Regions from separate parts of the Homo sapiens genome. Here region 2 is linked to region 1. Evidence: fine-mapped expression QTL. Tissue or cell type: whole blood. Region 1 holds a variant in brackets; the other region holds the start of a gene. All regions are shown on one strand. Distances are from middle to middle.

Region 1 (5,000 bases):
ATTTTTTTAAGTCTTTAGGTTTATCAGAATGTAGGTTGCCAGGTATAACTTACACAAACAAGTTGAGTATAGAGAGTTACTGATGGAAGCCAGTGTTGGACTTAATCAGTTTCTCTGCATCCTTCCTCTCCCCACAATCCTTGCACAGCACTAATGCTTCATCCTGCTTACCATCAGGAGGCAGCCACTCAGTAGGTAATAGTGAAGGTACTTTGCAGACCCATTTACAATATTTAAGGTTGAATGCCACTAGTTACCTTACTAATTTTGTATTTTAACATTCAGATTTATGGAAAATTTACAAACAGAGATTCAAGAAATGGAATTCCTTCAGTTTTCTAAAGGTTTGAGTTTCATGAGAAAAGAAGACTTTGCAGAGTGGCTACTTTTTTTCACTAACACTGAAAATAAAGATATTTATTGGAAAAATGTGAGAGAGAAGTTGTCAGCAGGAGAGGTTGGTATACCCTTTTATTATGCATGTGATAAAGATGAAATAATAAGTTAGACATGTTTACATAAAGTAACTTCTGAATTAACCAAGACTGTGCTACCCTCGATGGTATATAAAATCAACTTGAGGAATGTTCTCTACATGCTCTTCTCCTGTAAAGGAAAACTGCCTAAGACAGAATCAGTGTAGCAATTACAAGTTTTCCATTTCCAGTAAAGTCAAGAATAAGACAAGTATCACTACTGTTATTTAATATCACTCTGTAAATCTTAACCAGTCCAAATTAACAAGATTATTTAAAAGAGTATAAAAATGTGAAAGGGGGTAGTAGTTGTCTTTGTTTTTATATGATGCAATTATATGCCTAGAGAACCCAAGAGAATCCAGTAGAAAAACCGTAGAAACAATAAGAATTCAATAAAGTACCTGTCACAATGCTAATATATAAGCAGCAGCAGCTCTCCTATATACAAATTACAAGTAGAAAATGTAATGACATGCATATGTGTGTGTATATATATACGAGATGTATGAAATGATGATTGCCAAGCTATTAATAATTATTCATGTACAGTGGTGAGGTTTCAAGTGATTTTTACTTTCTTTCTTTATACCTTTATGTATTGTTCCAAAAAAATGTTTACAATGGACATGTATTTTATGTAACTTTTTAAAAAGTTACTTCTATTGTAAGAAAAAAATAAATTGCAGTAGAAGAACCCAGTTATAACTGCAAGATAAATATATAACAATTAGAAATAAATTTAACAAAAAAAAAGAAGAAAACTTGATAGCCTTGATGGATATAAAAAGAAAACTTATCTAATTATAAGACATCCCCTATTATTGAATAGAAAGTCTTAGAATTATAAATACAGCAATTCTGTCTTCAGTTAGTCTATAAGTGTAATGGTTATATTAGAACAGCCCAAGTTTACTGCAGTTACAAATTAACCCTGAAATCCCCCTGTCTGACACTGAGTTTCTTGCTCAGTCATGCCGCAGTTCCATTGTGGGCTGATAGGAGTCTCTGTCCGCATAGAGGTCTAGACCCATTCAGAGGTCTAGACTCTCTGAGGCTGTGCCATCTTGGAGTTACATCATCTGAAAGAAGTACCACGCTCAGAGGCTGTGGCAGGAAAAGAAGGAGGGGAGTCAAAATCCAGCAACTAAATGTTTTGGCCTGGAAACATCACATGACACTTGGCTATTGGCCAGACTAATCACATAACCCCACCTGAATGCAGGGAGGCAAGGAACTTCAGTCTTTCGTACGTGCAGGAATCAGAAAAGATCCAGATACTGGTGAATACTCGTGGGTTTCAATAAAAATACCATTGAATTATTGGGAAGAAACTAGACAAGCTATAAAACTTTATATGATCACGCCTGTAATCCTGGCACTTTGGGAGGCCAAGGCGGGCAGATCA[T/C]GAGGTCAGGAGATCAAGACCATCCTGGTTAACACGGTGAAACCACGTCTCTACTAAAAATACAAAAAATTAGCCAGGCATGGTGGCAGGTGCCTGTAGTCCCAGCTACTCGGGAGGCTGAGGCAGGAGAATAGTGTGAACCCTGGAGGCAGAGCTTTCAGTGAGCTGAGATTGCGCCACTGCACTCCAGCCTGGGTGACAGAGCAAGACTCTGTGTCAAAAAAAAAAAAGACTTTATATGAAAAGAATGTCAACATATTAAAATATATTATCAAACCTTGGTAACTAAAACAGTTTGTTACTGACAATGAATTTGACAGACTCCAGAAATAGACTTAAGCATATGAAAAATTTAGTAATTATGAAATAGTATTTTAAATTAGTTGGGTAAAAGAATTATTAATAAATGGCAGTAGGATAATTCACTGGCCATCTGAGGGAGAAAATGAACATAAATCTTTACACCATTCATTACTCTAAAATAAATTTAGGATGAATCAAAAAATTAAATGTTGAAAAAATGAAACTGAGTAAGTGTAGAAGAAAACATGGAAACAATGTTTCATCTTAGGTTATATACCTTTCTAAGCAAAACCCAAAACCTTTCAAAGAAAACTTGATGAAATACCTAAAAATTAAAATCTGTTGCCTCACCTCGTCCCCTGCAAAAATTATAATGAGAGTCAAAATAAAAAGTTAACATGAAGAAGGGGGAGATATTGATATGTAAAGACCAATTTTCTTAATTTATAATGGGATCTTTAAAAATCAGTAGGGATTGGCCGGGCGTGGTGGCTCATTCCTGTAATCCCAGCACTTTGGGAGGCCAAGGTGGGTGGCTCTCTCAAGGTCAGGAGTTCGAGACTAGCCGGGCCAACATGGTGAAACCCCATCTCTACCAAAAAATACAAAAAAAAGTAGCCGGGCATGGTGCCACACACCTGTAGTCCCAGCTACTCAGGAGGCTGAGGCGGGAGAATTGGATGAACCTGGGAGACAAAGGTTGCAGTGAGCCAAGGTCACACCTGGGCAACAGTGAGACTCTGTCTCAAAAAAAAAAAAAAAAAAAAAAAAAAAAAAATCAGTAGGTATCAAGAACTTTAAACGGTCTGAGATTTTTTTTTCCCTATTTAATATATCATGAGAACTTGAAAATCAACATGTGAATAACTGTAAAGTGTCTGAAATTTTATCCCTTTGCAGGTTAGCCTGCACAGTTTCATGGATGCTTGCAGAAGATACAAGACTATTGAGTCAGACACAAAGAATTTTATTATCGTAATGTAGCAACAACATGAGTAACATATTTGTGTCAGTTCCCCCTTGCCTCCCAAGCCCCATGGGCATGATGCTGAGAGGCCCAGGTAGATGCTGCCCACACAGCAGATTCACATCACAGCTGAGGACCCTCATCTTAGTGATCTGAATGTTTTGTAATGGGCAAGTAAACAAGCCTTCCTGAGCTTTGCTGCAGTGGGAGGCATTGTGTATTCATGATACTGGACAGTAAGCAAAGCTGTCCTGTGCTCCTGAGGAACAGTGCTGTCCGCTATACAAACAATTCTCCTGCCTCAGCCTCCTGAGTAGCTGGGATTACAGGCGCATACCACCATGCCTCGCAATTTTTGTATGTTTAGTAGAGATGGGTTTCACTGTGTTGTTGGCCAGGCTGGTCCCAAACTCTCGGCCTCCCAAAGTGCTGGGATTACAGGTGTGAAATCCTCGAAGATATAATCTGGAACAAAAATGCAGTCGGTGCCTCTGATAGATGTACAGAAACGTGAGACCCAGCTGGGCACGGTGGCTCAAACTTGTAATCCCAGCACTTTGGGAGGCCGAGGCGGGCAGATCATGAGGTCAGAAGATTGAGAACATCTTGGCTAACATGGTGAAACCCCATCTCTACTAAAAATACAAAAAATTAGACAGGCGTGGTGGCGGGTGCCTGTAGTCCCAGCTACTCGGGAGGCAGAGGCAGGAGAATTGGTGTGAACCCAGGAGGTGAAGTTTGCAGGGAGCCGAGATTGTGCTACTGCACTCCAGCCTGGGTGACAGAGCGAGACTCCATCTCAAAAAAAAAAAGAAATGTGAGACCCATGGAGAACGGTCTCGCACAGTAAGTTACCTAACAACCCATTAGAAATCTGGGCAAAGGACATAAACAGGACACAAGAAGAGAAATCCACAAATGACTAATAAGCATGTGAAAAATGTTTAACTTCATTCACAATTGAAGACATGCAAATTCAGGCCGGGCCTATGGCTCCCACCTGTAATTCCAGCACTTTGGGAGGCCGAGGCAGGTGGATCACCTGAGGCCGGGAGTTTGAGACCAGCCTGGTCAACATGGTGAAACCCCGTCTCTTCTAAAAATACAAAAATTAGCGGGGCGTGGTGGCGCATGCCTGTAATCACAGCTTTTCAGGAGGCTGAGGCAGAAGAATCGCTTGAATGAGGGAGGCGGAGGTTCTGGTGAGCCAAGATCACGCCACTGCACTCCAGACTGGGCAACACAGCAAGACTCCGTAAGACATGCAAATTCAAACATTAATAAAATACCATTTTTCATCTATCAGAAAAGCAGACATCAAAAAAGTTGCATCCAGTGCCTACTTCGAGGTCATGATAGAAGCAGCCACTCTTATTTGTGCTGATAAATACACTGGTTTTTTTTTTTCCTTTTTTCCCTCTCTATCATCTTGTAAATATACTGTTAAGAGAATAAAGCAAGGTACAGAAATATGTGAAGAGATTGTTCCCATTGTGTAAAACAAGGAGACGTGTGTGTACATGTATACACTTTAATAAGAATAGAATATTAGCCAGGCGCGGTGGCTCACGCCTGTAATCCCAGCACTTTGGGAGGCTGAGGTGGGTGAATCACCTGAGGTCAGGAGTTTGAGACCAGCCTGACCAATATGGTGAAACCCCATCTCTACTGAAAATACAAAAATTAGCCGGACGTGGTGGTGGGTGCCTGCAGTCCTAGCTACTCAGGCGGCTGAGACAGGAGAATTGCTTGAACCTGGGAAGCAGAGGTTGCAGTGAGCCAAGATTGCGCCATTGCGCTTCAGCCTGGGTGACAGAGCGAGACTGTCTCAAAAAAAAAAAAAAAA
Region 2 (5,000 bases), 100 kb before region 1:
ATGCTTTTCTGCCTGTGCCAGCCCACCTCACCCTTGCTTCTCTGTACAGTATAAAAGTCAGAGACAATTGTTTTGAAATTCAAGCCTAGCCTCTCCAGTGAAAATAAAGCTCCTTAAGAGCAGTTTTTCTGACATATCACTTTCGTTCTTCTTCAGAAAAAAAGAGCAGGAGTAAGTGAATTAAGAATACTTTGAAACAATAAGTATTTCCATCCTGTTTTCGTCCAGTTATTTAAAACAGCATACAATGTACAGCTTTAGAAGCAGCTTCTTATTTGGGGGTTGGTTTATAAACTGCATGGTTGAAAATACATCCCAGCCCAGGACTTTACAGCTGATGATGAAGAAATGAACAAAGCTGGAGCCCAAAAAGACCAATATAGTCAATGTGCTTAGACAAATGTCAGCAGCTGCCAAGGAAGATTTCATACTTAGAATGGTTATTCGACTAGAGATTGGTTCTATTATAAGAATTTGTTTCCTCTGCATAAGAAAAGTTTGAATACATTAAATTATAAGTGAGAGTTCTAGATGCCTGGGCACATAATGAAAATTTAAAAAATAACTAATTACACTGTTTTCCAAGTGGGTTCAAAGATTTTTGGCAAAATAAAAAGAAGCTTTTGTTTTGAAAATAAAGTACCCCAAAGGAATAATATACTTCTGTATTTTGGATGGCCAAAGCATAGAAATATGAACCCCTGAGTTTCATTTGTGCCATTTATTTATTCACTTATTTACTCACTCATTGAATGTCTATTACGTGCTGGGCATTGTGCTAGGTGCTAGAGAAACAGGGAAAAGGAAGACATCTCACCCACAAGGATGTCAAATTGTGGGAGAAAGACAATGTTCTTAAATATGCTACATGTTTTAATGGGAATCTAAACTTATCTTGGGCTTAAGGCAATACTGAGTAATAGATGCCAGGTTTCATTAAATACCTAGAGGAACTGTGTGAGGCAGTTAGAAGTATACACGTAAAGACTGTGGTTTCTGGAAATCAAGAATAAACTACAAGGTAAGACATCCAGGGTGTCCAAAATATCCTGGAAGTCCTATTATCACCAGGAAACAAGCTAGATGTCAATAGTCCAGAAAAGCAGGACATGTGCCAAAGCTACCAGAGTTAGCAGAGGTGAAAAACAGTCCAGAGGTTGACAAAGTCAGGCTAGATACAAAAAAGCAGGAAAATCTCAGGTTAAGATGGGCTAGTGATCTGGAATCATGGACATTCAGTCAAGCTCATTTGTGTTCACAGGGCAGAAGTAAACCAAACCTTGACCACAGTAAACGCACATCTGTCATGAGCCTACCATGTGCCAGGCATTTGGCTAGTCACTTTATATAAAATATCTCATTTAGCTTCCCCACCCCAAACTGTAAGAGGGTTGTTCACAGATGAAAAAATTGAGACTCAAAGAGATTAAATACCTTACCCCAAATAGCAGTGATCATCTACCAAATCGTGAGTTATTTACAAATGAGAAAATGGAGACTCAGAGAGATTAAATAATTTGCCCCAAACCACAGTGATCATCCTGGTAGAGCTAAGATTCAAACCTTGAGGTCTGGCTCACAAGTCGGTGAAGTGAGGCTCATCTCTCTACTTCCTACCTGGGAAGGCACACTGAAAAGTAAGTCCAGAAGCTGACGGAAAAGTGAGGAACCTCTGACTGCAGATTAATTTAGACAAGCGGGCTAAGAGAAAGGGAGCAAGGATTAAGGGCAGATAATAACAAAGGGATCCACGGAACTTCCACTGAATGATCAAATTAGATTTCGTGTGACAGGTTTTTGTTTTTGTTTCTTGAAGTTTTGTTTTGTGCAAAACTTCAAGACAGCAGTGATTATGTGATTAGGAGTCTTGGCCCCTTTGATGTTGGCTCCGTTACTGCATGCCCAACTAAAGCTTCTAATAGCTGGGGACATTTCAGAGGCTGAACAAAGAGTTTATTAAAAAGAGTTACTCAGGAAAAGTGAAGACCAAAGAATGGAGGATTGGAGGCTGTTAAATAAAACCAAGTAGTCTGCCTCAGCTACATCACTTATCACCAATGCAACAGCCAGGACTGGAGGTATCGTTCTAAATCTGCACTGGGGAAAACCTCTGGGTCCCTGATGATAGAGACATGGGGCTGGTGTGCTGCTGTCTCTGACTTTTAGTTCTAGGTAGGATAAGAGCTACTATCAAACCTTTTGTTGAAACTGAATTTAAATTCATTATAAGCAAATAGTGAGGGACTGAAATAAACAGAATGCCTTGTCTGAGAGTTGTTTTAGCAGAAATGAAAGAACAGTCAAGACTATAAGCATAGGAAGACATGAACAACACAGATGCAGAAGAGACTATTTCAAAAAACGTTTCACAGTTTTACAAGGTGAAAAAATGAAAAGGAGAAACCTGCCCACACAACCGAGGGCACTATCTTGTTTTGGACTAGGAAGTCATATTATACTGTCTTGATACTCTTCCTGTCATCCCATCCCCACAGCCTTAGAAGGCAGCCCCGGAACCGAAGGCCACCTCTTGCGGCTGCGAGCGTCGCCTCAGCAACCGCACCCACGGCGCAGGCCCGGTAGGCGGGGCGGAAGCCTGTCGGATGTCGCGAGAGTTCCCAAGCGGTAGGCGGCGGCGCCGGGAGAGAAGCGCCGCCTAGCTGCGCTTCCGCAAAGATGGCGGCGGCTGCGGGTAGCTGCGCGCGGGTGGCGGCCTGGGGCGGAAAACTGCGACGGGGGCTCGCTGTCAGCCGACAGGCTGTGCGGAGTCCCGGCCCCTTGGCAGCGGCAGTGGCCGGCGCGGCCCTGGCAGGAGCAGGAGCGGCCTGGCACCACAGCCGCGTCAGTGTTGCGGCGCGGGATGGCAGTTTTACAGTCTCCGCACAGGTACAGGACTAACTCCTTCTGCTAGCCCCAGTCAAGCTCCTCCCTCCCCTGACGCCCTTAGGCGGGGAGTGGTTTGGCTCTGGGCGGCTCTCCCGGAGCCGTGGGTGGAGGTGCCGCTGCGGATCGGAGCGCCCTGCGACTGGTGGGACTCGCTCCTTCCTGGACCGGCCCCCGGCCTGAGTCCCCGAGGGCCTTCGAGGCTGGTGACCGGAGATTCTGCCTCCCTTGGGAGAACCCCGCGGACGCTGAACACCACGGCCCACAAAACTGGCCGCACTAATTTAGTGGTGATGAGTGTGGGCGTGTCTTAATTCGAGGCTCCTAATTCAGAATCTCACTGCGCCTCGCCTCTTGCTACCTCTCTGGTCAGTGAAGTGGCATTCACATCCGCAGGTGGTTTGCGTCCAGTTACCCCTGTGGGATATACCTTTGTTAAGCTTTGCAACTAAGTTTTACGATCTTTTCTTTGTATAGCATGATGAAGTTCTGTCGATTGCTTTTTTAAGTCACGAATGTGTCAGCCACAAAAATTAACCAGTTGATTTCCAGATTTTATTATCAACTTTAAGGAACATTATTGCATGATTATAAACCTTAATATCTTAGTGGACCATAAGTTCTAAGCAAAAATTGCTCCTAAAACCTCCATCTATTAAAGACAAGAGTCCGCCGGGCGCGGTGGCACACGCCTTTAATCCCAGGGCTTTGGGAGGCCGAGGCGGGTGGATCTCCTGAGGTCAGGAGTTCGAGACCAGCCTGGCCAACATGGTGAAGCCGCTCCCCACCCCAGCCCCGCCCCCCCGGTCTCTACTAAAAAATATAAACAATTAGCTGGGTGTGGTGGCGGGAGGCTGAAGTAGGAGAACCGCTTGAATCCGGGAGGCGGAGGTTGCAGTGAGCCAAGATCGAGCCATTGCACTCCAGCCTGAGCTACAAGAGCGAAACTCCGTCTCAAAAAAAAAAAAAAAAGATTCAAGTTCCCTATTTCAGGATAAATGATGTTGTAACGCATTTGAAAATTTGAATGAGTAGTGCTTTAAAATTTTTGTAGACTTAGTAAGTTTTTACATATGAGCTTTTTTGAAAATTGAAAGTAGTAGTTTATTATTTTCTTTTTTAGATTTACATTATGCCTTTCTAGCGAAAAACTCAAGGAACATTCAGATACAACAAAAAAGAGAGGAAAGAAGGCCTTGTGAGTTAAAATTAAGTATTGGCAACTGATATTCCTTATTTGTATTAACATACATTATAATTATATTGTAAACATATATAATGGAAAGATCTATTATCTAGTGTTTTTATAGCATTTTTGTGAATCTTGTGCCAAGGAGTTCAGTGTATTCATCATTAGTTTCTCTCCCCTAGATTCATCCTGGTTTTTTTGTTTGTTTTTTGTTTTTGTTTTTGTTTTTTTTGAGAGGAGTCTCGCTCTGTCGCCCAGGCCGGACTGCAGTGGCGCTATCTCGGCTTACTGCAAGCTCCGCCTCCCGGGTTCACGCCATTCTCCTGCCTCAGCCTCCCGAGTAGCTGGGACTACAGGCGCCCGCCATCGCGCCCGGCTAATTTTTTGTGTTTTTAGTAGAGACGGGGTTTCACCGTATTAGCCAGGATGGTCTCGATCTCCTGACCTCGTGATCCGCCCGCCTTGGCCTCCCTAAGTGCTGGAATTACAGGCGTGAGCCACTGCGCCCGGCCGATTCATCCTGTTTTTAAGACCCTTAGGTTAATCTTCTCCGGAGTATCACTTTAACCACACAGTGTACCCTTCTTCAGAAACCCTTCTTCAGTGTCTCATTTTGCCAAGAGTAAAATGCACTTTTTTTTTGTTGTTGAGATGGAGTCTCTGTCACCCAGGCTGGAGTGCAGTGGCGTGATCCCGGCTCACTACAACCTCTTAACTCCCCGGTTCAAGTAATTCTCCTACCTCAGCCTCCCAAGTAGCTAGGATTACAGGCATACGCCACCACGTCCAGCTAATTTTTTTTTGTATTGTTAGTAGAGCCGGGGTTTCACCATGTTGGCCAGGATGGTCTCGATCTCCTGACCTCGTGATCCGCCTGCCTTGGCCTCCCAGAGTGCTGGGATTACTGGCGTGAGCCACAGCGCCCGGC

The links. PIP is the estimated chance that this variant, and not a neighbour inherited with it, causes the effect.
Region 2: MICU2 starts here. The variant in region 1 is fine-mapped to the expression of MICU2 in whole blood (TOPMed, PIP above 0.99).

Annotation. Positions count from the first base shown.
Region 1 is chr13:21,498,383-21,503,382 of GRCh38, reverse strand. It overlaps MICU2 (mitochondrial calcium uptake 2), which reads left to right. Exons shown (of 12, transcript NM_152726.3): 9 at 286-457. Among named protein-coding and RNA genes, the nearest start is that of ZDHHC20, 42 kb to the right of the region's middle. The variant T/C (reference allele first, on the strand shown) is at 1,885.
Region 2 is chr13:21,601,825-21,606,824 of GRCh38, reverse strand. It overlaps MICU2 (mitochondrial calcium uptake 2), which reads left to right and starts at 2,655. Exons shown (of 12, transcript NM_152726.3): 1 at 2,655-2,886. The coding sequence starts at 2,677. RefSeq lists enhancers at 2,472-2,541, 2,323-2,941, 2,942-3,561 and a silencer at 2,712-2,921.